3 separate regions of the Homo sapiens genome follow, and regions 1 and 2 are each linked to region 3. Evidence: fine-mapped expression QTL. A gene starts in region 3. Each other region holds a variant in brackets. All regions are shown on one strand. Distances are between the middles of the regions. Region 1 overlaps ZFP3 (ZFP3 zinc finger protein). Region 2 has its middle 15 kb from the start of ZFP3-DT. Region 3 holds the start of ZNF232 (zinc finger protein 232).

Region 1 (6,517 bases), 26 kb before region 3:
CCCACTAGAGATTCTGATTCTGAGAGATCTGAGATGGGACCTGGACATTAGTATTTTTAACAGATTTCTCAGTGGATTCTCACGCAGCTAGCCTAGTTCCAGGCCAGGAACCATTGTTTAAGAGACATTCATCTAACAAGATCTTCCTGCCATGATTTCAGGGCTCCTAAGCAATTTTCAGGGTTTTATGTGGCTTTCCATGCAGATTTTCTTTTCTTTTCTTTTCTTTTCTTTTCTTTTTTTTGAGATGGAGTCTGGCTCTGTCGCCCAGGCTGGAGTGCAATGGTGCGATCTCAGCTCACTGCAACCTCCACCTCCCAGGTTCAACTGATTCTCCTGCCTCAGCCTCCCGAGTAGCTGGGATTATAAGCACCCACCATCATGCCCAGCCAATTTTTGTATTTTTGTAGAGATGAGGTTTCACCATGTTGGCCAGGCTGGTCTTGAACTCCTGACCTCAGGTGATCTGCCTGCCTCGGCCTCCCAAAGTGCTGGGATTACAGGCATGAGCTACTGTGCCTGGCTCATGTAGATTTTCATCTAGGTAATATGGTCCTTTATAAATTTTATTTCTTGTTGTTAATTAATAGATATCTGGTTTATACATCAGTACGTTGTGAATGAGGCTTTTTTTTTTTTTTTTTTTTTTTTTTGAGACGGAGTCTCGCTCTGTCGCCCAGGCTGGAGTGCAGTGGCGGGATCTCGGCTCACTGCAAGCTCCGCCTCTCGGGTTCACGCCATTCTCCTGCCTCAGCCTCCCAAGTAGCTGGGACTACAGGCGCCCGCCACTACGCCCGGCTAATTTTTTGTATTTTTAGTAGAGACGGGGTTTCACCGTGTTAGCCAGGATGGTCTCGATCTCCTGACCTCGTGATCCGCCCGCCTCGGCCTCCCAAAGTGCTGGGATTACAGGCGTGAGCCACCGCGCCCGGCCTGAATGAGGCTTTTTGAGCTTGCTTTCCTTGGGTGCATTGAAAAGACAAATTTAGGTCTGCCAAGTTGAGGGTCCTATTCTGAGCTGTGGAAACCCAATAGAGGTCTGCCTGTCATGCCCAAACTGAGGACCAGTGGTCAACCTCTACTCTTCCAGTAGCACCTCCATCTTATCTCTCTTCAGAAACATTTAATTTCAGATTTAGGAAAGTGAGGAAGTGAGAAACGGAAAGATAGAAAATTGTATTTGGGAATTTGAATTTAGGCTATGAGAAGTGGTGTTTCCATATGAGTCTGAGGCCTAATATATGGCTGTGCCTCTGGAAGAATCAACCAAATGGAGATTGGCTTTGATTTGTATTTGAGAAGATACCCATAGAGCAGTATTTGACAAATGACATACTGTGTTGCTGGCAGAATGCAAAGTAAAAGAATGATCAGAGTGGGTAAGATTTAGTGGGGGAAGGCTTTCTGTGTTTTTTTTGAGATGGAATCTTACTCTGTTGCACAGGCTGGAGTGCAGTGGAGTGATCTTGGCTCACTACAACTTGTGCCTCCTGGGCTCAAGCGATTCTCCTGCCTCAGCCTCCCCAGTAACTGGGACTACAGGTGCACACCACCATGCCTGGCTAATTTTTTGTGTGTTTTTTTTAGTAGAGACAGGGTTTCACCATGTTGTCCAGGCTGGTCTCGAACTCCTGACCTCAGGTGGTTCTGCCTGCCTCAGCCTCTCAAAGTGCTGGGATTACAGGCATGAGCCACCGTGCCTGGCCAGGGGAGACTTTCTGAATTTGAGTTTTGTTTTTTTTTTTTGAGACGGAGCCTTGCTCTGTCGCCCAGGCTGGAGTGCAGTGGCGCAATCTTGGTTCACTGCAAGCCCCGCCTCCTGGGTTCACGCCACTCGCCTGCATCAGCCTCCTGAGTAGCTGGGACTACAAGCGCCCGCCACCACGCCCAGCTAATTTTTTGTATTTTTAGTAGAGATGGAGTTTCACTGTGTTAGCCAGGATGGTCTTGATCTCCTGACCTCGTGATCTGCCCACCTCGGCCTTCCAAAGTGCTGGGATTATAGGTGTGAGCCACCACACCCGGCCCTGAATTTGAGTTTTAAACTAGGTCCTGGTTACTTGACTGGGGATAAATACATACCTAACTTCTGTCGTATCTTGTTTTGCTAAGAAAAAGTGATTTTCCATTTATCGTGGTACACGTGTCAGCTCTACGAATGCTGATTTTGTAAAGAACTAGATGATGGAAAATAAGCAAGTATAGGAGGCATGAGGATGAAAAGGAAAGGCCAGAGAGGGGGTTGGAAGCAGATGGAGACTGAAATGGCAGCTTGTGGAACTTGCTCTTGGGTAGGGATGAGAGAGAAATGTATTTAAGACAGTACTTCCCAACTCAGATGGTACCATGGAGGAAGAAGATAGCTAAATTCTCGACAATGGATTCTTACAATTGTATAGATACACATTACCTATAATTTTCAAAGATTTCAACAAAAAGGAGAAGTACAGTTTTTAGGTGCCCTCTCTTACTTCATGGGAAAATGAGAGAAGATGCTGAGATGGGGAAGGTCAAAGAAAGTTCCACCTCATTTTCAGGTGTAGCACAAAGAGCTTCTAAGACTTCAGGATTCCAGTAGGAGATCAGGTTCCTTCCAGGTGTCTGGGGAGGGGGGCATTACCAGGCTGCCCTGATGAGTGACTAGAGGTGCCCGAGCCGGATGGTGTTAGTAACCAACATCCTGTGGATAACGGGAGGCTGGGCAGAGAGAAGGGGAGTCCAAAGTCGCCCCCAAATCTCCACCTTTCCCCTTCCCTTACCACATGACTCCAGCCTCCTCTGCTGCTCAGGGTCTTTGTTTCTTCAGTAATCTCATCCTTTCTTCACTCTTAACCCCTGTCTCTCTGCTGGACCTATTCCTTCTAATATAAACATGTTCATATCTCTTCCATCAGAGGAAAGCCTTGCTCTATAGCACTGTCCGTCTTGGTCTTCTCCTTTCATCCACTTTTTTTTTTTTTTTTAAAGAAGCAGCAAATTCATTATTCAGTCCACTACCAGCTGGCTTTTGCTACTGTCATTCCCCTGAATCTGTGCTCACAGTTCATATGTGACTATCTATTGTCTCAGTACACATTTTCTTTCTTTTTTTTTTTTTTTTTTTTTGAGACGGAGTCTCGCTCTGTCACCCAGGCTGGAGTGCAGAGGTGTGATCTTGGCTCACTGCAAGCTCCGCCTCCCGGGTTCAGGCCATTCTCCTGCCTCAGCTTCCCGAGTAGCTGGGACTACAGGCGCCCGCCACCACGCCTGGCTCCTTTTTTTGTACTTTTAGTAGAGACGGAGTTTCACCGTGTTAGCCAAGATGGTCTCGATCTCCTGACCTCATGATCTGCCTGCCTTGGCCTCCCAAAGTGCTGGGATAACAGGCGTGAGCCACTGTGCCCAGCCTCAGTAGACATTTTCTAATTCTTATCCTAGCGAATCTCAACTGCATTTG[A/AT]TTTTTTTTTTTTTTTTTTTTTGAGACAGAGTCTCACTCTGTTGCCCAGGCTGGAGTACAGTGGCTCAATCATAGGTTACCGCAGCCTCTACCTCACAGGCTCAAGTGATCCTCCCACCTCAGCTTCCCGAGTAGCTGGAACTACAGGCACATGCCACTATGCCTGGCTAAATTTTTAATTTGTAGAGATGGGGTCTTGCTATGTTTCCCAGGCTGGTCTCAAACTCCTGGGCTCAAGTGATCCTCCCACCTACTCCTCCCAAAGTGCTGGCATTAAAGGCGTGAGCCACCGTTCCTAGCCTTCACTCGATATTTTTAAATTCCCTCTGCCAATGCCTAAGTGACTTCTGTGACACATTATTCTGGTTTTTCAGTTTCCCTACCATTCTTTATCTTCTTGGCTCATTCTCTTCCTCTACTCACCCCTTTATGAACGGAGTCTGAACAGGAAACAGCTCACTCAAATTAGGATAATTTGAGGAGGGTTTATTTGCAGCGAGGTTAATTATAAATGATCTAGGTGTGGGCAGGTCATTGAAGAACCCAGGGCTGGCAATAATAGTCACTAGCCCTGGGCCTGAAGAGAGAGGAGGGAGTAGAGGTTACTGGAACCCAGACAGTGAGACTACTGAGTAGGATAGAGTTGAGAGGAGTAGGGACCTCAGTTGAGGGACAACACCAACCCAAGGCGACCTCACAGGAAGGAACCCTGACCCCTTTCTCCTGCCCTGCCCTTTCGTCCCTGCTTCCAGACCCCTGCTGGGGCTCCTCATTGGTGGACCACAGCTGGAAGCCAGAGGCTCTGTTGATGTGTTCCATACAGGTTAGGTTTCTGGGGCAAAGAGGGACAGGGAGAAAGGTGGAAAGAAGATCTAGAGGGAAAATGGAAGATAACTGGAGCACTCGTGACTGTTTCTTTGACTCCTAGGCTTCTGTTCGCAGCCTCTGATGGTTCTCATGCTACACTCAGGCTGAGTACTTTCAAGTCTGTATCTCTAGTCCTGACTACTTTGAGCTTTAGACCAATATATTTTGACTGATTCTTTGATACCTCTCTGTGGATACCTTGAAACTCATTTTGTCCAAAACAGAGCTCACTGATCATCTTTTATTGCTATATTAGCTCCTCTCCCAGTATTCAGAATATTGTGGCACCACCGTCCATCTAATTACCATCCCTCAAATTGAGTGAGATCTGGGCACCATCTTTGAGTCCTCCCTCCTTACACCTATCTCCAGTCACACACCAAGTCTTGCAGAATTTGACCTCTTCCGTATTTCCCCAGCCTGTCTCTTCCTCCCCACTGCTACTAGTGCTCTAGTGAGATCACATCACCTTTTGCCTTGATGACTGCAGCAGCCTCCCAGCTGATCTTCCTATGTGCAGGCCTACTGCTTTCTTTTTTTTTTTTTTTTTTTAGTAGAGATGGGGTTTCACCGTGTGAGCCAGGATGGTCTCAGTCTCCTGATCTCGTGATCCTCCCGCCTTGGCCTCCCAAAGTGCTGGGACTACAGGCGCCCGCCACCATGCCCGGCTAATTTTTTGTATTTTTAGTAGAGACGGGGTTTCACCGTGTTAGCCAAGATGGTCTCGATCTTCTGACCTCGTGATCCACCATCCTCGGCCTCCCAAAGTGCTGGAATTACAGGCGTGAGCCACCACGCCCGGCCAGGCCCACTGCTTTCTACTTCAGCCACTAAACGACCACGAGTGTGCATCTGCGTGGAATGCTAATCTGACTAGGGACCATGTCATTCCTTGGTTTAAAAAACCATCCCATAGTTCTGCAATGTCTAAAGGATGAAGTTCCATACATTCCCATGCCCCCTTGAGAATCACCTTCCACAGTGAACACTTTCACTGACGGGAGGATTGTATTCCTCAGATTTGCCGTAGTGCACAAATAGACTGCCCTAAGCAAAGGCCACTTTAATATTAGTTCCAGATTGCTTACCATCTGAACAAAGGTCAGGCTTATTCTCCTGGCATTTGGACCCCTTGTCTGTGGTGGGGACAGCCAAATCCCCAGGACAGTTTTATTAGGAATAGGTTTGGCCTCGTATAATAATAAAAAACCCCCAATATCTTAAGCAAGGCAAAAGCTTATTTCTCTCTTAGATAAATGAAGTCCAGAGGCTGGCATTCCAGGATTGGTATGGCAGTACCATGGAGTCATCAGGGTCCCAGGTTCCTTCCAGCTGTGATCCCCAGTCCTAGGCTATGCCAGTATACTCATGGTCCAGGATGGTGTCCAGCTATCACATCATGCTCTGGGAACAGCATGGAAGACAAGATGGAAGAAATGTATCTCCTCATCCTTTAGGAGATTTCCTAGTAGTCCCATGTGGTTTCATTTGCATCTCACTGTCTCATTGGCTAGAATATGATCATGTGGCCAATCCCAACTGCAAAAATTAAAAAGCTGGGGAATGTATTTTTTTAGCTAGGCTAATTGCCACACTATATAAATTTATTATTCTGTTATAAGGCAATGGGGAATAATATTGGGGTAGGCAACTAAACATTTTTGCCACAACTAAAAATCTTTGTAAAAGTTTTAAAAAGGTACTCTCCTCCCACCCACCCCTGCCCAAGAAACAAGGTGTCTTGCTCTATTACCCAGGCTGGAGTACAGTGGCACAATCACGGCTCATTGCAGCCTTGACCCCCTGGGCTCAAGTGACCCTCCTACCTCAGCCTCCCCAGTAGCTGAGACTACAGACACATGCCACTGCCCCTGGCCAATTTTTAAAAAATTTTAGTTGAGACAAGATCTCCCTATGTTACCTAGGCTGGTCTTGAACTCCTGAGCTCAAGCCATCTTCCCACCTCTGCCTCCCAAAGTACTGGAATTACAGGTGTGAGCCACCACACCCTGCCAAAAATGCACTCTTTAAGTAATCTATGAAGGTATTAAGAAAATACTATAAGAGAGCTGATTACAAAATTAATATGTAATGATCAACAGCATTGCTATATATATAAGTAATAGCCAGTTACAAAATGTAAGAAAATCTCACTAAATGAAAAGAGGTACAGAGACATGATGAACATAAAAACAACATCAGCATAAGTTTGGA
Region 2 (6,517 bases), 50 kb before region 3:
CTACTTCTCCATCTCCATCTCCTTCTCCTTCTTTCTTCTTTCTTCTTCTCCTTCTCCTTCTTCTTCATCTCTTTTTTTGAGACAGGGTCTCACCCTGTCGCCCACGCTGCAGTGCAGTAGCCCAGCGATCATGGTTCACTGTAGCCTCAGTCTCCTTGGCTCCAGTGATCATGGTTCACTGTAGCCTCGGTCTCCTTGGCTCAAGGGATCCTCCCACCTCAGCCTTCTGAGTAGCTGGGACCACAATCATGCACCACCATGCCCAGCTAATTTTTAAATTTTTTGTAGAGATGGCATCTCACTATGTTGCCCAGGCTGGTCTGAAACTCCATGGTTCAAGCCATCCTCCTGTCTTGACCTCTCAAAGTGTTGGGATTACAGGTCTGAGCCACTGCTTCTGGCCAGGGCCTCAAATTTATGACTTCATTGAACCTTAATTACTTCCAATTAATTATTCCAAATATAGCCATGCCATGAGTTGGGTCTTTAACGTATGAATTTTTTGGGAACACATATATTCAGTCCATAACGCTATACTCTAATCAGAGAATTCATATTATGGAAGAATCCTATGAACAGAGTAGATGTGAGAGCACTTTTTTTTTTCTTTTGAGATGGAGTCTTGCTCTGTCACCTAGGCTGGAGTGCAGTGGTGCGATCTCTGCTCACTGCAATCTCTGCCTCCCGGGTTCAAGTGATTCTCCTGCCTCAGCCTTCTGAGTAGCTGGGACTACAGGCATCCACCACCATGCTCACTGATTTTTGTATTTTTAGTAGAGATGGGGTTTTACCATATTGGCCAGGCTGTTCTCAAACTCTTGACCTTGTGATCCACCCACCTTGGCCTCCGAAAGTGCTGGGATTACAGGTGTGAGCCACCGCGCCCAGCAGTGAGAGCACTTTCAAAGGGAAGTTAGAGCTCATTAGATATTGTTGAATTCATAGTAGAAAGACTTATGAATGTAATAAATGTGGGAACATTTTTTTGAGACAGAGTCTTGCTCTGTTGCCTAGGCTGGAGTAAAGTCGCATGATCATGGCTCACTGTAGCCTCGACCCCTCAGGCTCAAGCGATCCTCCCACCTCAGCCTCCCGAGTAGCTGGGACTACAGGTGCGTGCCACCATGCCTGGCTAATTGTTTTAGTTTTTGTAGAGACAGGGTCTCCCTATGTGGTCCAGGCTGGTTTGGAAATTCTGGGCTCAAGTCATCCTCCTGCCTCGGCCTCCCAAAGTACTGGGATTACAGGAAAGAACCACCACCCCTGGCTGGAAAATATTTCAGGTGGTGATCTCAACTTGTTCAACATCAGATAATTCATTTGGGGGGAAAACCCTGTAAGGGCGTCGAGTGTGGAAGAGCCTTCAGCTAGAGCTTAGGTCTTACTGAACATCACACAATTCACATTGGAAAAAAACCCTGTGAAAGTAAGGAGTGTCGGCCAGATGCAGTGGCTCACGCCTGTAATCCCAGCACTTTGGGAAAGCCCAGATGGGCGGATCACCCGAGGTCAGGGGTTTGAGACCAGCCTGGCCAACATGGTGAATCTCCATCTCTACTAAAAATAGAAAAAAATGGCCTGGCGCAGTGGCTCACGCCTGTAATCCCAGCACTTTGGTAGGCCGAGGCAGGCAGATCACGAAGTCAGGAGATCGAGACCATCCTGGCTAACCCGTCTCTATTAAAAATACAAAAAAGTAGCTAGGCGTGGTGGTGGGTGCCTGTAGTCCTAGCTACTCGGGAGGCTGAGGCAGAGAATGGCGTGAACCCGGAGGCGGAGCTTGCAGTGAGCTGAGATCATGCCACTGCACTCCAGCCTGGGCAACAGTGCGAGACTCTGTCTCAAACAAACAAACAAAAAATATATATATATACAAAAAAAAATTAGCGAGGCGTGGTGGTGCGTGCCTGTAATCCCAGCTACTCGGGAGGCTGAGGCAGGAGAGCTCCTTGAGCCCGGGAGGTGGAGGTTGCAGTGAGCCGAGATTGCGCCATTGCACTCCAGCCTGGGCAACAAGAGCGAAACTCTGTCTCAAGGAAAAAAAAAAAAAAAAAAAGTAAGGAGTGCAGGTAAATATTTAGCTATAATTTAGCCTTACTAGAGACTTCATGTTAGAAGAGAAATCCTTTGAATGTAAAGACTGCAGGAAAGCCTTTCCTCAGAATCCTCATCTTATTCTACATCACCGAATTTGCTCAGGAGAGAAATCCCATAATTTATTGAATGTGGTCAGCCTTTAATCAGAGCTCAAATCTTCGTCCACATCAAAGAATTACCTCTGGGGAGAAAACCTGTGAGTGACATAAATATTGGAAGTCCTGCAATTATAGTTCATGCCTTACTCTACCCCAGATAATTCATATCAGAGAGAAACTGTTTGAATGTAACAGATGGGTAAATGCTGTCTGGCCTAGGTCAATCTTTATGACAATATCAAATAATTCGTCTCAGGGAATAATCCTATGACTGCAATGAAAGAGAATATCTTCGGCCAGTCTAAGAAAACACCACAAACATAAGAGTATGCATGTTTATACATATCTCTTGATATCAAAATAATTAGAAAAAATCTAGAGGAGGTGGATTAGTCCACATACTGAATTTCATGGGTTAACTGAAATTTAGACAAATGATTGAAGACTCTCTGTCTAGACAAAGTGGCAGCTGCATCAGGGAGACCTGGGACTCAACTGTCCTTCCTCATCCACTTTCCCGGCCACAGTTGAAATTCTTGTCTGTAGGTTGCTG[GC/G]GCCACCTGATGCCCAGCAAGAAAACTGCCTCTTTATTCCCGAGTAGGGAAGAAGACGCCTAAATCTGTAAACATATCTCCTTCTCTTTTTTTTTTTTTGAGACAGAGTCTCGCTCTGTTGCCCAGGCTGGAGTGTAATGGCGCAATCTCGGCTCTATGCAACCTCCACCTCCCGGGTTCAAGCGATTCTCGTGCCTCAGCCTCTTGAGTAGCTGGGACTACAGGTATGCACCACCATGCCCAGCTAATTTTTGTATTTTTAGTAGAGACAAGGTTTCACCATATTGGTCAGGCGGGTCTTGAACTCCTGACCTCGTGATCCACCTGACTTGGCCTCCCTAAGTGCTGGGATTATAGGCGTGAGCCACTGTGCCTGGCCTTCTTTTCTTTTTCAGACAGAGTCTTGCTATGTCGCCCAGGCTGGCGTGCAGTGGCGCGATCTCGACTCACTGCAACCTCTGCCTCCCGGGTTCAAGCAATTCTCATGCCTCAGCCTCCCGAGTACCTGGGACGACAGGCGTGCACCACCACGCCAGGCTAATTTTTTGTATTTTTAGTAGAGACGGGGTTTCGCCATGTTGGCCAGATGGGTCTCCAACTCCTGACCTCAGGTGATCCGCCCACCTGAGCTTCCCGAAGTCCTGGGATTACAGGCCTGAGCCACCACGCCCAGCCTCTTGTTCTCTTTCAACATTCAGTTTACTTAATTGTGCTTCCTCACGCAAAGGATAACCTTCCTCACACAAACACCCTTTCCTGCTCCCCTTTTCTTCCAACTGTTGCCTGCTGCCTCAGGAAAATCTCTCTGTCTCCTTCTTCATGGCAGGAGTAGCTGAGTGGGAACTGCCATTGTATAGTACCTGCGACAGCCTGGCAGGTGTGAAGTGCTTTGTCTGCAGTATCTCATTTAATTCTCACATGAACCCTGTGTGCTAATAGTACTCCCATTTTATAGGAGAGGAACCTAAACTCAGAGCTCAGGGCACTTTCCTAGGTACATGGGAAATAGCAGAAGCCCAAGGGGAGTGTGGGATTGTCTTCAAAGCTCATGCTTTATGAGTGGTTCTTAACCCCGGAGGGCTCATTTTTTTTTTTTTTTTTTTTTTTTTTGAGATGGAGTCTGACTGTGTCGCCCAGGCTGGACTACAGTGGCACCATCTCAGCTCACTGTAACTTCCTCCTCCCAGGTTCAAGCGATTCTCCTGCCTCAGCCTCCCGAGTAGCTGGGACTACAGGTGCCTGCCACCACGCCTGGCTAATTTTTGTATTTTTAGTAGAGACTGGGTTTTGCCATGTTGGCCAGGCTGGTCTCAAAACTCCTGACCTGAAGTGATCCTCTTGCCTTAGCCTCCCAAAGTGCTGGGATTACAGGCATGAGCCATCATGCTTGGCCAAGCCTGGAGAACTCTTTTAAAAGTACCAATGCTGGCTGGGCACGGTGGCTAATGCCTGTAATCCCAGCACTTTGGGAGGTCGAGGTGGGCAGATTGCTTGAGCCCAGGAGTTCCAGACCAGTTTGGGCAGCATAGTGAGACCCCTGTCTCTACAAAAAATTTAAAAAAAAATTAGCTGAGCATGGTGGTGCATGCCTGTGGTCCTAGCTACTCAGGTAGCTGAGATGGGAGGCAGTGAGCTGTGATCATGCCACTGCATTCCAGCCTGGGCAACACTGTGAAACCGTGTCTCAAAAAAAAAAAAAAAAAGAAAGAAAAGAAAAGAAAAAAGAAAAGGTACCAATGCTTGCCCTCCTTCTCCAAATTTTTTTTTTTTTTTGACAGAGTCTCACACTGTCGCCCTGTCGCCAGGCTGGAGTGAGTGGCGCAATCTCGGCTCACTGCAACCTCCGCCTCCTGGGTTCAAGTGTTTCTCCTACCTCAGCCTCCTGAGTAGCTGGGACTACAGTTGCATACCACCACCTTGGCCTCCCAAAGTGCTGGGATTACAGGCGTGAGCCACCGCTCCCAGCCTCCTCCTCCAAATTTTAATTGATCTGGGGTGAGGCATGGTGTTACAGACTGAACTGCATTCCCCCAAAATTTATATGTCGAAGCCTTAATCCCAAATGTGACTGTATTTAGAGATAAGGCCTTTAAGGAGGTAATTGAGATTAAATAAGCCTGACCAACATGGAGAAACCTCATCTCTACTAAAAATACAAAAATTAGCCAGGCGTGGTGGTGCACACCTGTAATCCCAGCTACTCGGGAGGCTGAGGCAGGAGAATCGCTTGAACCCAGGAGGCAGAGGTTGCAGTGAGCCGAGATTGTGACACTGCACTCCAGCCTGGGCAACAAGAGTGAAACTCCATCTCAAAAGAAAAAAAATAAATAAATAATAAAAATAAAATAAAAAGAATTCATGTGTTAGATGATTTTAGGGCAGTTGGCCAGTCACACAAGCTGAAGGCTGGGCTGAAACAAAATAATATGTGAATGTTGGGTGCAATTGTTTTGAGTAGAGACTAAAGGGGCAGAACTGTTCTTTGTTCTCTGAGAAGGCTGAAATGTCCACTGCATTGCATAATTTAACACCTAGTCCTTGTCAAGAGAAGGGAATTCCCTTGATTTTGAAAAGTCCTAATACAATCATTTATATCCGTCTCCGCACAGCCCAGCCCCTCTGGGTTCAGCCCGTCTCCTGTCATTCTTACAACCCACATCCCATATTAAGCAGTGATTATTAGGATGATGGGAGATGTCACCTGCTTACCCAGTTTGGACATGTTTGTCCATCTCTGCTGGTAATGCTGCTTTTACCCTTGTGGGATCTGGTGACTTTCAACAATTGCCCATTAGTGCTGGAAATGGGCCCAGATTCTTCCAACATTTTGGCACCAAAGACACTGCCAAGAACAATCTCAACTTCCTTGGGTCCAGCACTGTTAGGTCAAATTACATGCTCAATCACAAGTGGAGAAGAGTCTAGTTTTGAGCATCGGTTGAGTACAACTTTACAAAATTGCTGATTCAGGGGTGGCCCTATGGAAAAATAAGGAAATGCCAAATAGAGTTTAAAAGGTATGTCTAATGAGACAAGAAAGATGAGGAGAAGCAGAAACCCAGATGGATTTGAAATATCTGCAGGCTTGTCATGGTGACTCCTGCCTGTAATCTTGGAATTTTGGGAGGCAGAGGCAGGAGGATTGCTTGAGCCCAGGAGTTTGAGATCAGTTTGGGCAACACAGGGAGACTCCACCTCTACAAAAAATGCAAAAAATTAGCGGAGCATTGTGGCACACACCTATAGCTCCAGCTACTCAGGAGGCTGAAGCGGGAGGATCACTTGAGCCTGGGAGTTGGAGGCTGCAGTGAGCCCACATCACAGCACTGTACTGCAGCCTGGGCAACAGTGTGAGATTCCGTTTCAAAAATAAAAATAAAAGAAATATCTGCAAACATCTGCTCCTTACACTGGTTGCACACATACTTCACCTCAATTCCATTTGAAAGTCTCCCCTATTTTAAGTTTTCTAATATCCACAGTCAAGATCAACCAGTCTCATAAGTCAGTCATCTAGTTTCTGCATTTTGGATCTCTGACCTTCAGATATTATATAGAAATTGTGGACTCTAGTGTCAGCCATTGTTTCTCATCTAATCCTATAAAAAAGTTGAATTCAAATAACTATTGAGGCTGGGCGTGGTGGCTCACGTCTGTAATCCCAGTGCTTTGGGAGGCCGAGGCAGGTGGATTGACTGAGCTCAGGAGTTCGAGACCAGCCTGGGCAACACGGTGAAACCCCGTCTCTACTAAAATACAAAAAATTAG
Region 3 (6,490 bases):
GGAATCTTGCAAGGGCCCCCTGTAACATAAGAAGAAATCATTCCTCTTTTTTTTTTTTAAGACAGAGTCTTTCTCTGTTACCCAGGCTGGAGTGCAGTGACATGATCTCAGCTCACTGCAACCTCCACCCCCGGGGTTCTAGCGATTCTCCTACCTCAGCCTCCCAAGTAGCTGGGATTACAGGCGCCTGCCACCACATCCAGCTAATTTTTTTGTATTTTTAGTAGGGACGGGGTTTTGCCATATTGGCCAGGCTGGTCTTGAACTCCTGACCTCAGGTGACCCACCCACCTCGGCCTCCCAAAGTGGTAGGATTACAGGCATGAGCCACCGCGCCCGTCCTCCTCTTCTTTTTTCATTCATTAAACATATACATATACTCAACACTCCAAAGAGCCAAACCCTGTCCTATGCCCTGTAGTCCCGCTTTTTCTTCCACCCCTCCCCAGAATTCTGCTGCACTAAGTCAATGTTTTTGAGAAACTTGCACCGTGGTAGAAACGGGGATGTAAAGTGGTTTTCTATAATACAACTAATTAAATGCCATTGACAGGAAAAATGTATCAAGAAAAAAAAAGTTCTGGGGGCCTATGGGAAGAAATGACTATTGGAAGAAATAAGTTTGAAGCAAAACCCAAGTTTCCAGATGCAGAGCCCAGAGCCGAGCAGCTTTCAGTGCAAGGTGGAATGTGTTGGGGAGGCAGCCTCCTCTGAGATGGCTCCTCCCTGCTTTCAAAAATTTCTGAAGTAGTAGCTACAGCAAAAGAAAAATATAAGTCCCCTTTAAGGAGCTGGATCTCATTCAAATGCCAAAGCCCTATTAAGGGGCAGCTATGAACAAGTCTCGGGTACAGTGGCCTGCGTCAAGGAAATCTAACAGGTGTAAACCAAAAAAGCATCTGAGATAGGTCTCAACCAATTTAGGGGTTATTTTGCTAAGGTTGAGGATGCACCCAGGAAAAAGACACACAAGCCACAGTAGGATCCGTGGCTCGCACTTTTACCAAAGAGGGTTTTGAGGGCTTCAATTTAATGGGGAGAAAGCTGGCAGGAGGGGAAGGAGGAGAGAAGAGGGAGGGTATGTGGTGAGGTAAGTGGCCACATTCTTGTGAGGATTTGATTAGAGCTCACTGAATCCACATGTTGCACGTGAAAAGAGGAAGTCAATTATGAATTTGTCTCGTGCTCAGTAAATCTGCATTTTACACAAGATAAGGTAGACATACAGTAGAGGAAGAAGTCAAATATGCTTTGTCTCTGGGTGGGTGGAGGAACGATTTCTAGTCTTGTCCGGTGAAGCTCGGCTGTTCGTTTCCATTGCCAGGGTGAGGGAGGCCACCTGGGGGCATATGTTGCTTTCTATCTTGCAGCTATCGGTTTAGGAACAAAAGGAAAAGCAGTTTTTTTCCGTGACTCAGTTTCCAAGCTTAACTTTTCCCTTTGTCATAGTAAGTTTGGGGTCCTGAGATTTTATTTTCCTTTCACACAGGGAAGGAGGTGGAACGCATCAGAGGCCACGAAAGGAGCACAAAGGGGGACCGCTGGCCTAAGACAAAGGAGGCGCGAGGAAAAACGCGGAGCTCGCGTCTCCCAGGGTGATGCCCGGCGCCGCTGGCCCCAGCAAAACTTCTCTACCCCGGCCTCGGGCAGGTGCCCGCCCGGGGAGGGGGCTGTCGTCCAGGCCAGGTACAACTCCCCTTCCCACCCTTCACTCCCTACCCAAGGGTCTCGAGAAAAGAGAAGAGGAACATCAAGACCCCCCTCCACGGCACGTGACGCGACGCAACGCAGGTAGCGCAGCGCGGGCACCACGGGCAACCCAAACCCCTCTCCACACACAACCGCGGAGCTGCCTGCCAGGCCTGCTCACTGCAGAGCCGCCGCTGCCTGCGGGACGGGCAAAAGCCAAGCCGCCAGGTGGACCTCGGGGAAGCCGCCGCCAACACTCACCTCACAGGACCAGGAGGTTCCATCGGGGCGCTGCCGCGAATCGCGCCACTTACAGCCCTCACCCCAGGGGCAGGTTTGCGCCTGCGCAGGTCGCAGCCTCGGCCTCCAACTCCCAGAATCCTCCTCGCCGCCGGCTTCCGTTCGCGGACTTTGGCCCAGGCGCGTGGGCGCTGCCGAGAGGCTGGGAGCCCGGGAACCGGTTCCTGGACTTGAGCGGAGCGAGAAAGAGCGCGCCGCCTGCACGACTGGACTGGAGCGGCCGGGTGCCCTGGAGGCCCCTGGGAATTGCAGTCCTTGCGCAGGTGGAGAGTGAGCCCTTGTAAGCGGGTGACTTCATCAAGTTTGGGGGGTCTCTTGTGGAATTGTACCTGAAGGGCGGTGCTGGCGGACAGATGTCAGGGAAATTCTGGCCTTGTCCATGGCCTGTGGTAACACTTCTCCATGAGTTCTATTTTCCAATTACCTCTTCCCAGACCTGATGAGAGGGCCACAGCTAAGGAAGACGGTCCCTTCCACGAAAAAATATTCCCCAACCACTAGCCTGTACAATTCCTGGGGCGTAGGGGGAGGGGAGGAGAAAAAAGAATTCTAAGGTTAATTTTATTGCGATGGGGGAAATAGGGGTTGGTGTTTTTTTGTTGTTGTTATTTTTTATTTTATTTATTTATTTGAGACGGAGTCTTGCTCTGTCGCCCAGGCTGGAGTGCAGTGGCGCGATCTTGGCTCACTGCAAGCTCCGCCTCCCGGGTTCACGCCATTCTCCTGCCTCAGCCTCCTGAGTAGCTGGGACTAGAGGCGCCCGCCACCACGCCCGGCTAATTTTTTTTTTTTGGTAGGAGACACGGCGTTTCACCATATTAGCCAGGATGGTCTCGATCTCCTGACCTCGTGATCCGCCCGTCTCGGCCTCCCAAAGTGCTGGGTTTACAGGCGCCCGGCCGATTATTTTTTATTTTTTTTTTGAGACATGGTGGCCAACATGGTGAAACCCTGTCTCTATTAAAAATACAAAAAGGTTAGCTGGGCGTGGTGGCGGGCGCCTGTAGTCCCCACTACTCAGGAGGCAGGAGAATCGTTTGAACCCGGGAGGCAGAGGTTGCAATAAGCTGAGATTGTGCCACTGCACTCTAGCCTGGGCGACAGAGTGAGACTCCGTCTCAAAAAAAAAATTAATTAAAAATAAATTTATCTCACTATCAATTTTGCAGGATATTGATTGATCCAGTCTCTCAATACTTTTATAAAATAGCTTAATCCTAGTCTCTCCAAGAAAAATTGTTGTTCAACTGTGTAGTACCATAGTAACAGTTCTCAGATTCTCAGATTATTAAATTTGTTTCTCCAAGATATAGTATCCTTGAAAATGCGCATTGACACCCCCATGGCTGGGGGATATATTATCTTTTTTCCTTCAAAGTGCCATTGATAATTACTGCACGTAGGAGCTATGGATAAAAATAGTTATCATTTGTTGAATGTCTACTACGTGTCTAGAACTATGCCAGGAACTTAATGAAATTGTCTTATTTAGTCTTCACAGTTGCTCCACAAGGGATTGTATTAATGTCATTATCTTGATTTTACAGATGAGAAAACTCAAGACTCAGAAACAATAAAGGTTACAGAGATGAAATTGACAGAGCCTGAATTTCAGTATGTCAAACTTCAATGTGCCATTATACTTTTAAATCCTACAGAACAGATTGAATCACAACTTCTACTTTTACATGAGAGAAGACAATGGGTCCTATGACTTACTGTCAGTTTCCTTTTCCTGATTTAATTAGCTGCTTCTGTATCTAATTTTGCTAGGAATGGAGGAATAAGGCAAATTCCCTAAACTACATATTGACATTTATACTAATGTGAAAACCTCAAGTCCATTTGCAGACTTTTGGATTAGATTCTGTCCCAGAAAGACATCCACCCTAGAGTTCAGGATATCATACCCATTTTACTGTTCCCCTGGCACAATTCATAGTAAGGAAAAACAGACAAGGGGAAAGCTATTAGATTCTCGGTGCTGCTAAACAGGACACACAAGGACACCATTTTGTGATGATGATGGTGCTTTATGCAGCTTCCACCATTTACAAGATTTTCCTGTGGTGTGGAACCTCTCATGATAAAGCAAAGGAACTAGAAGCTTATTCCAGTCAAGATTTCTGATTTATCTTGTGGTAAGCATTTGGGAAGGACATATCTGCACATGACCTGAGACTAAGTACTATACACTGAATCAGATGAAAATTGCTCTTAGGAAGCTTACAATTTTCCAAATAGTTAGGACAAAAACAAACTCTCCTTCTCTCTTCCTATATGTACATACTGACATCTTTATCATTACTGTCTTCCTAGGGTTATGATTCTGTATGGTTTCTTTGGTGCTGCATTAGACCTGAGCTCTGATTGAAAATTCTTCCACGCTCGCTACATTCCAAAACTTTATCTCCAATATGAATTTCCAGATGCCTCACAAGGTCTGAGCTCCATCTGAAGGCTTTCCCATGCTTGTCACATTCATAGGGCTTTTCTCCACTATGAATTCTATGATGTCGAATAAAGTGTGAGCTCTGATTACAAGTCTTTGAACATTCATTGCATTCACAAAGTTTCTTTCCACTGTGAATTCTTTGATGCTGAATAAGTTGTGAGCTCCCCTTCAAATCTTTCCCACACCCAATGCATTTATAAGGCCTCTCTCTCACCTTGTATGGATTCTCTGATGTTCTGTAAGGACTGAGTTCTGGCCAGGCGCAGTGGCTCACGCCTGTAATCCCAGCACTTTGGGAAACCGAGGCGGGTGGATCAGCTGGGCTCAGGAGTTCGAGACCAGCCTGGCCAGCATGGTGAAAGCCCCTCTCTACTAAAAATACAAAAATTAGCCGGGTGTGGTGGTGGGTGCCTGTAATCCCAGCTAATTGGGAGGCTGGGGCTGGAGAATTACTTGAACCTGGGAGGTGGAGGTTGCAGTGAGCCGAGATCGGGCCACTGCACTCCAGCCTGGCAGCAGTGTGAGACTCCGTCCCAAAAAATAACAAACAAACAAAAAAGACACCAGAGGGCTTTGGGTCCCTCTCTCTCTGCCATGTGAGGACCCTGTGAGAAGGCAGCCAGGGAGCTCTCACCAGAACCTGACCATGTTGGGCCCTGGTCACAGCCTTGCAGCCTCCAAAACTGAGAAAATAAATTTCTGTTGTCTGGCATCCAGTCTATGGTATTTTGTTACGGCAGCCCGAGCTAAGACAGAGGAAAACTGGGGGCTGATGTGACGGCGGGGACTTTAGGTAGAAGGACCCCACGTCAAAAGTCAAAGCTAAAAATTCTGGAACGAGCCAGGAAGGCATCAGGACGTCTCATTTTATTTGCTAGAGGCATCTTTTGGGGGGTGGGGCGGTGGGTGGGTGGAAGGAGATGTGGCCAGTGAGCCTCTGACTTTTAATTGAGTTATTTCGAAACAAGGAACAGAGGGCCGGATGTGGTGGGTCGTGCCTGTAATTCCAGCACTTTGCGAGGCCGAGGCCAGTGGATCACCTGAGGTCAGGAGTTCAAGACCAGCCTGGCCAACATGGTGAAACCCTCTCTCTACTAAAAATACAAAATTAGCCTGGCGTGGTGGGGGGCGCCTGTAATCCCAGCTACTCGGGAGGCTGAGGCGGGACAACAGCTTTAACCCGGGAGGCGGAGGTTACAGTGAGCCGAGATGGCGCCACTGCACTCCGGCTTGGGCAACAGAGCAAGACTCCGTCTCCAAAAACACACACACACACACACACAAAACCCAAAACGGAACAGAGGCAGTTCTGTATTCCAGAGGGATTGATTTGTGATGCCTGCTCAAAACTCAAGAAGCCACCACCCTGATACTCATCAAACCCCGGAGAAATTTCGTTTTTAGAGTGTCAGAAGGCCCCATGAATAACCTTCCAGTCACTGAGGGAGGTCCCTACTCAGCACGCCCCGGTCTCCTTCACTCTCCTGCACTCGTGCCTCACAGATGGCCTCATGCGCGGACTGGCGGTCCAGCCTCCCGGGGACACAGCCCGGGCGCACCCCGCGCCGCCTTTGGCCACTGAGGCGGTCCTCGAGGCGCCGGGCTAGGGAAAGCCTCCCCGGCCGTCAAGGCTGGGATAGCGCCGGGGGATCGGGGCGGGGTGCGTGCGCCGAAAGGGCCTCAAAGCTGTAGGGCTGGACGGCACAAAGGGGCGCAAGGCACGGAGGCCAGGCAGAGGGGACAGCTAGCGGCGCGGCGGGACGGGCGGGCCCCGACGCCCAGCTCCAAATGCGTGGCCGCTGTGGGAGCTCGTCTCCAGGCGCCCATCAGTCTTCCCCTCACTCGACGCTACCTTGGCGGCCGCGCCCATGCTGTCCCCGCTCCAACTAGCAGTCAGGAGGGGCCGCGGGCAGCGCTCGAGACGCTCATTGAGAGGACTTCCCGCCTGCGGGCTCTCTGCTCGACGCCACTCCCGGCCCCGCTCCGGGCGGCCCCCCTCACCACTCCCGGCCCCGCTCCCGGCGGCCCGCCTCACCACTCCCGGCT

The links. PIP is the estimated chance that this variant, and not a neighbour inherited with it, causes the effect.
Region 1: its variant is the best candidate, but not a certain one, in a credible set for the expression of ZNF232 in whole blood (INTERVAL, PIP 0.76).
Region 2: its variant is the best candidate, but not a certain one, in a credible set for the expression of ZNF232 in whole blood (TOPMed, PIP 0.59).

The regions. Positions count from the first base shown.
Region 1 is chr17:5,083,641-5,090,157 of GRCh38, forward strand. All of the region lies in intron 1 of ZFP3 (ZFP3 zinc finger protein), which reads left to right. Among named protein-coding and RNA genes, the nearest start is that of ZFP3, 8.4 kb to the left of the region's middle. The variant A/AT (reference allele first, on the strand shown) is at 3,437.
Region 2 is chr17:5,059,836-5,066,352 of GRCh38, forward strand. It overlaps the pseudogene LOC100421332. Among named protein-coding and RNA genes, the nearest start is that of ZFP3-DT, 15 kb to the right of the region's middle. RefSeq lists an enhancer at 2,486-3,246. The variant GC/G (reference allele first, on the strand shown) is at 2,749.
Region 3 is chr17:5,109,850-5,116,339 of GRCh38, forward strand. ZNF232 (zinc finger protein 232) reads right to left here and starts at 2,029. Exons shown (of 4, transcript NM_014519.6): 1 at 1,951-2,029; 2 at 1-19. The coding sequence starts at 1,973. It overlaps ZNF232-AS1 (ZNF232 antisense RNA 1), which reads left to right and starts at 2,086. Exons shown (of 3, transcript NR_135658.1): 1 at 2,086-2,252; 2 at 3,537-3,603; 3 at 4,309-4,533. USP6 (ubiquitin specific peptidase 6) reads left to right here and starts at 6,183. Exons shown (of 38, transcript NM_001304284.2): 1 at 6,183-6,490. RefSeq lists an enhancer at 2,340-2,389.